Linked DNA regions of Homo sapiens: region 1 is linked to region 2. The links come from fine-mapping of genetic effects on gene expression. A gene starts in region 2. The other region holds a variant in brackets. All regions are shown on one strand. Distances are from middle to middle. Region 1 overlaps SCUBE1 (signal peptide, CUB domain and EGF like domain containing 1). Region 2 holds the start of SCUBE1 (signal peptide, CUB domain and EGF like domain containing 1).

The links. PIP is the estimated chance that this variant, and not a neighbour inherited with it, causes the effect.
Region 1: its variant is fine-mapped to the expression of SCUBE1 in aorta (GTEx, PIP above 0.99). The same link has a PIP of 0.9 or more in caudate, cerebellum, cerebral cortex, nucleus accumbens, prefrontal cortex and putamen.

The regions. Positions count from the first base shown.
Region 1 is chr22:43,296,406-43,299,297 of GRCh38, reverse strand. All of the region lies in intron 3 of SCUBE1 (signal peptide, CUB domain and EGF like domain containing 1), which reads left to right. Among named protein-coding and RNA genes, the nearest start is that of SCUBE1-AS1, 22 kb to the right of the region's middle. The variant A/G (reference allele first, on the strand shown) is at 1,571.
Region 2 is chr22:43,341,696-43,344,587 of GRCh38, reverse strand. It overlaps SCUBE1 (signal peptide, CUB domain and EGF like domain containing 1), which reads left to right and starts at 1,216. Exons shown (of 22, transcript NM_173050.5): 1 at 1,216-1,414. The coding sequence starts at 1,327.

The DNA of each region.
Region 1 (2,892 bases), 45 kb after region 2:
CCTGAGGCCATGAGCAGCGGCTTCGTGCTGCACCTGCTCACACTCGGTGGTGGTCTGTGTGTGCCAGGCGCTGTGCAGAGTACATTACCTCCATCACCTCCTTTGACTCCCAAACACCTCAGGGACTTTTATCCCTGTTTTATAGAGAAGGAAACCAAGGCCCAAAATGGTGAAATGACCTGCTCAAGGTCACAGAGCAAGTGACCAGCAAAGACTCACTGAATCTTTTTTCTTTTTTTTTTTTTTGAGACGGAGTCTCGCTGTGTCGCCCCAGGCCAGAGTGCAGTGGTGCGGTCTGGCTCACTGCAAGCTCCGCCTCCCGGGTTCACACCATGCTCCTGCCTCAGCCTCCCAAGCAGCTGGGACTACAGGCACCCGCCACCATGCCCGGCTAATTTTTTGTATTTTTAGTAGAGACAGGGTTTCACCGTGTTAGCCAGGATGGTCTTGATCTCCTGACCTTGTGATCCGCCCGCCTCAGCCTCCCAAAGTGCTGGGATTACAGGCGTGAGCCACCAAGCCCAGTCGACTCACTGAATCTTGTACTCCATCTGGTATGACTTGTAGAGCAACAGCCAGGTCCCATGGGCAGTGGTCACAGGGCAGCATCACGCAGACCCCTTTGAGGACTGGCCAGCGGTCTGCACTGGGCGGTAGACTCCCGTCCTTCCCTAGAGATGCACAGCAGGGGGCGGCAGGGCAGCGGCTGGGCTGGAAGGCAGGACTCAGGTTGCGGAGAGCAGAGTGAGCAGACCCCAGCGGCCAGCAGGCTTCACCACCTCTGCCTTCCCTGGGCTGGCTTGCTGGGTTTGGACGTGAGCAGTGAGCTTGCTGGTCTGGAAAGCTGACCTTACCATTCATGCGCCTCATCTCCCACCCTGAGCTTGGACTCAGGCCCAGGCCAAGAGGTTGGCTCTGTGTCTTCTGCACACGGCCAACCTGCTGGGGAATCAGGAGCCCCAGGGAAGACCTCAGCTGATGCCCAGACCAGGAAGCAGACAGGTCCTGGGAGACCCCAGGCATACCTCCTGCCGCCTGTGCCAGCAGCTCTTGACAGCTCGGAGAGTGTTCTGGATCTGGCAGAACCCAGGCCCCAAAGCTCTAAGACCCGTGTGTATTTTACCCAAAATCTAATCCATCTGGTTCTCATTTATTTACACTTAACTCATCAAATGCAATTTTGCAAGAGCCGCTAGATAGCCAAGAGGCTTTTCTGCCTAAGCCGCCCTTCTGAAAGGAGCCGGCAGGCGGTGGGGGCCTCAGCCCCCTGGGACCAGGTGGGAGCTCTCCGTGCTGGAGGTGGAGTTCGCTTCCTAAGATGGGCTGGGCACCTCTGCCTCTGTTTCTAGACCTTCCGTGGGAGCTGGGACACCGGAGCCAGTGGAGGGCCTGACACACAGTAGGCTCTTGACAGCCATGAAAACATGGGTGGGTCCAAGCAGAACACGGAGTCTCTGTTTCAAATCGGGAAATATTTGCGGGAAACACAAAGCAGCCAGAGCTGGATCCAGAAGTAATTTTTAGTTGTTATAAATAACTGTGAACCTGGACTCTTGGTCCAAAGTAGAAC[A/G]AACAGCCAGCTATTAATAAAAACAAACATCAGCATCTTGGGCCAAGAAGCACACCTCCCGGGGAAACTGGTCCTGCCTGCAGAGGCCTTTCGGAAGCGGGTCAACCTATGGCCTGCTGATGTCAGCTCTGGAAATTCTTCTTGCTGGAAAACAACCATGTCAATCACAGCACAGGGGTCCCCTCCCACACATCACCCTTCAGTGGCTGGCAGCAGGTGGAGGTGGCCTGCGCCTGTGAGGACCGAGTGGAGATGGGCAAGAGTCACAGCTGAGGGCCGTCCGCCGCCACCCCGGCCTCCAGAGCTGTGCTCATGCTGGGTACTGCACAGTGAGGAGGTGGGACCTGACCCCAGAGACCCTGTGGGACCAAGGTGCCATGTCCTGTTCCAGCCAGACTCATCACAGCAGCCACTGCCCATGGAGAAGGGATTGGGAGGGAGAGGCTGGAGGCTGAGACCCAGGAGAAGTGTGCAGCCTACCCCAAAGAGGAAGCTGAGGTCCAAGCCAGGGCTGTCTCATGGGAGCCAGGGAGATGGACGGGCAAGGTGGCGTGGAAAAAGTCAGCAGCCTTGGTCAGACCCTTGGGAGAGGGGCAGAAGAAAGGGGCTTCGAGAACAACAGGGTCCTCAGGCCTGGTGGCTGGGTGGGACGAGGGCCAGACCCTGACCAGTGAGGCCCCTCTTTTGTGCTCCAAATGCTCAGCCTTTCTTGACTCCTGTCCTTCCCTTCTCCCACCTCTGACCTCCCCCAGCTCTGCGGGCTGAAGGAATGGGAGTTCACAGCTCACGGGGAGCAGCCTTCAAGGACCTTCAGGCTCCCTGTCTTTTGTCCCATACCTCACTGGAGTGGTCTTTTTCCGAGGGGGTCTCCCAGCCCCACCTGCTGAAGGCCCCTGTGGCACGGCCCACCAAGGTTCCACCTTCTCTTCCTCCCAGCTCCCTTGCCTGCCATTTCAGCCTTGGCCCGGAAGAGGGAAGGGCTCCGGCGGTTCGATGGCACAATCACAGATACAGTTGTACATCAAAAGAGGCTGTGGACCAGTGCCTTCCAGCCTCAACCACGCCGGTCCAGACAGCTGTGAAAGGCTCCTCCCAGGACCGGGCATGGAGGGCCCGCTCTCCACTCTACCTCCCCCGTCTCTCTCACCAGTTGAAAGGATTTCCTGAAAGGAGCCTCCTAGAGTCTGCCCCAGAGCCCAGGGGACCTCCTGTCTCTTTGTAGCTAAGTCCCTGTGCTGTGCTGAGGAGCTCCGTGCCTTCTGGGAACATTTAGCTGTGGTCATAAATAAAGATGAAGGACCATGAGCTGCCAGCAGGATTCA
Region 2 (2,892 bases):
GAGTGATTGCACGTGAGAGCATGTGTCTGCATGTGTGACTGTGTGTGTGTGTGTGTGTGTGTGTGTGTGTGTGTGTGTGCGTGTGTGTGTTGGGGGCAGGAAAGGGAGCTGGTGTGGAGGGGCTCAAACTGGTGCAGGCAGAGTGGACAAAAAGAGAAAAGAGTTGTCTTTGAGTTGGGCCTGGAGAGCAGGAGAAGAAAAAAGGAGCTCTTATTGGTGGTTGTCAAGGAGATGGGCCTTGGGGTTTGCTGAACTTTCGTCCCTTAAAGCGTCCTGCCTGGAACTGAGAGGGGCCATTTATTTCCAGCCGCCCGTCCCTCCCAGGCCCGGTGGGACCAGACCCGAAGCCAACCCTCGCCAGGCGTCAGGTGTAGACCCCAGGCCAGGCCAGAGCAGTTCCTGGGTCTTCGGACCGGGATGCCCGCCCTGCCCCTCCTCCTGGCCCCGCCCGGTCTGTCACAGGGGGAGGCCTCGGCCTCGCATTCCGGGCAGCGAACTTCGCCGGCCGAGGTTAGCCCCGTGCGGGGGCCTCCCGCGGGACCGACCGCCAAGCGGCATTGTCCGTCCCGGGCGCCCGCCCGGTTCCAGACGCAGGTCCTGCGGCCGCCCCGTGACAAGCACACTGACGGGCCACTGTCCTTTGACGAGTGCTAAAAAGTTCGTTTGTTTTGAACGTCAATTTTCAAGTGATCTTCACGAGGTTTCCCCTCCCGGTTCCTTCGCTGCTGCCTCGCCCGCACTCGGTCCCCAGTAGGTGCTCAAGAAACGTCCAGCAAACGGCAGCGCAGGCGAGTCTGCTCTGCGCGCTGGCGCGTTTCACTGCCCACGGATGGCGGGCGACCTCACGGGATCCCCGGTTCGCAGGATCCCCGCCCCCGAGGCTGCCTCTGGGCCGGGAGGGGTTACCCCAGAGGGGCGTCCACTCTCGACGGCGGGGGCCGGGGCGCCGCGGGCAGGGGAGGGCGCAGCCTCCAAGCAGCCCCAGCCTGGCCTAGACCCCGCGCCTAGCGAGCCGGCCGGCCAGGCCCACACCCCCCACCTGCCGCCCGCCCCAGGGGAAGGGTCCCCCCGACGACGCCCGAGCCCCCCTCTTCCTCGGAGGGCCGGAGGCCGGCGCCCATTGGCCGGCCCTGGGCGACGCCCCGCCCCTCCGACGCCACGGGCCAATGAGCGCGCGCTGTCAGCTCATCAGCCGGGCTGGCTGGGCGGCTCGGGAGCCCGAGCGGTGGCGGAGCGGCGAGCAGCGAGCAGCGCCTGCGGGAGCGGCCGGTCGGTCGGGTCCCCGCGCCCCGCACGCCCGCACGCCCAGCGGGGCCCGCATTGAGCATGGGCGCGGCGGCCGTGCGCTGGCACTTGTGCGTGCTGCTGGCCCTGGGCACACGCGGGCGGCTGGCCGGGGGCAGCGGGCTCCCAGGTAAGCCCCCGACCGAGGTGGGGGGCGGCGGGCGCGGGGGGCTCGGGCGGCCGAGGCGCGGTCCCGGAGGGCTTCTTCCCCGCGGATCCCGAGCTCGCCCCGCGCGGCCCCGCGCCCCCTGCCTCTTTGCAAAGTAACTTCTAGGGCCGGCCCGGGGCGCCCCCTCCCCGCAGCCCGGGCGGCCGGGGCTCCTGAGTCCGGCGGGGCCGCACCAGGGGTGGGTGGGCCGGGGCCCCGGGAGGGGAAGCGCGAGCGCGGGAGCGAGGAAGAAAGGCGGCGGTTCCCGGGGACCCCGCGTGCGGACCTGGGCGGGGCGGGACCCCGAGCGCAGAGGGGCGCTCCTCCTGGGAGAGGGGGCGCGGGGCGGGGCGGGCGGAGGGGGACACGCCAGGAGGTGGACGGGGAAAGGGACGGACCGAGAGACCGGGACGGGGCGGGAGGTGCGGGACAGACGGACAGAAGAGCCGGCGCCGAGGGAGCAGACAAAAGGAAGCCCGGAGAAAAGACAGATGCGGAAGGGTAGAGAGGAGGCCCGCACCGCCCGGGGAAGGAGGAGGAGGCCGGTGGATCAGGGGGAATCAAGAGGGATGGTCCCACCGATGATAAGGGAGAGAGAGAGGAGGAGACGGGGGACAGATGGACGCCGCAGAAAAACGGGGTTGGGGGGGGCGGTGAGAGGGAGACCGGGAAAGAGAGAGGGACAGAGATACCTGGAAAGCCGCAGACGAGGGACCGGGACCGTCTGACAGGACGGGGAGGAAAGACAGAGGGAAGGAAGGCAGAGGATCCGGAGGACAGACACAGGGAGGAGAGTCCGGACGCGGGACGTCGGTGGAGCAGACCCAGGAAGGGGAGGGGGAGACCCGGAGGCCACAGGCCCAGGCCCGTGGGTTTCACGGGGACCCCCCCACCCTCCCACCCGGTCCCCTCCTGCTCTCTGTCTTCAGGGGCTTCCCGAAAAGCTGGAGTCACATTCTCCCCTCCTCGTCATCAGAGGCGCTTCCTCCGGTGCTCTGCTTGGAGGGGGAGGCAGGGGGAGGGTCCTGCACGTCCTTCCCGGCTTCCTGAGGTCTGGTATGGGTGGCGTAGGGTCTATTCCTGGTGGTCCCGCGTGCCCCGAGTGAGGATGCTGGGCCTGTGAGACTCTTCCACAGCAACACCCCTCCTGGAAGCCCAGCCCTGCTGCCCCATCATCCCCCTTGTGTCTGTGGGTGTCTCTCCCAAGCTTTGGGGTCCCTCACCTCTGAGTGACTGTTCCTGGGCGTGCCTATCCCCACCTGTGTCCCTCCTCGTGTCTCTCTGTATCTGACTCTGTCTCCTCCACGACCCTCTCCGTGGAAGCCCTGTGACTGTGAAACCCCAGCAGCATGTCCCCAGCATAAGCAAACCAGAGTCAAAGGGAGCAGCCTGTGCTAGGAGGGCTGGGTCGCCCTGCAGGGGAGTCTCCAGCCCAGACAGGAGCGGGAGCATGGCAGAGA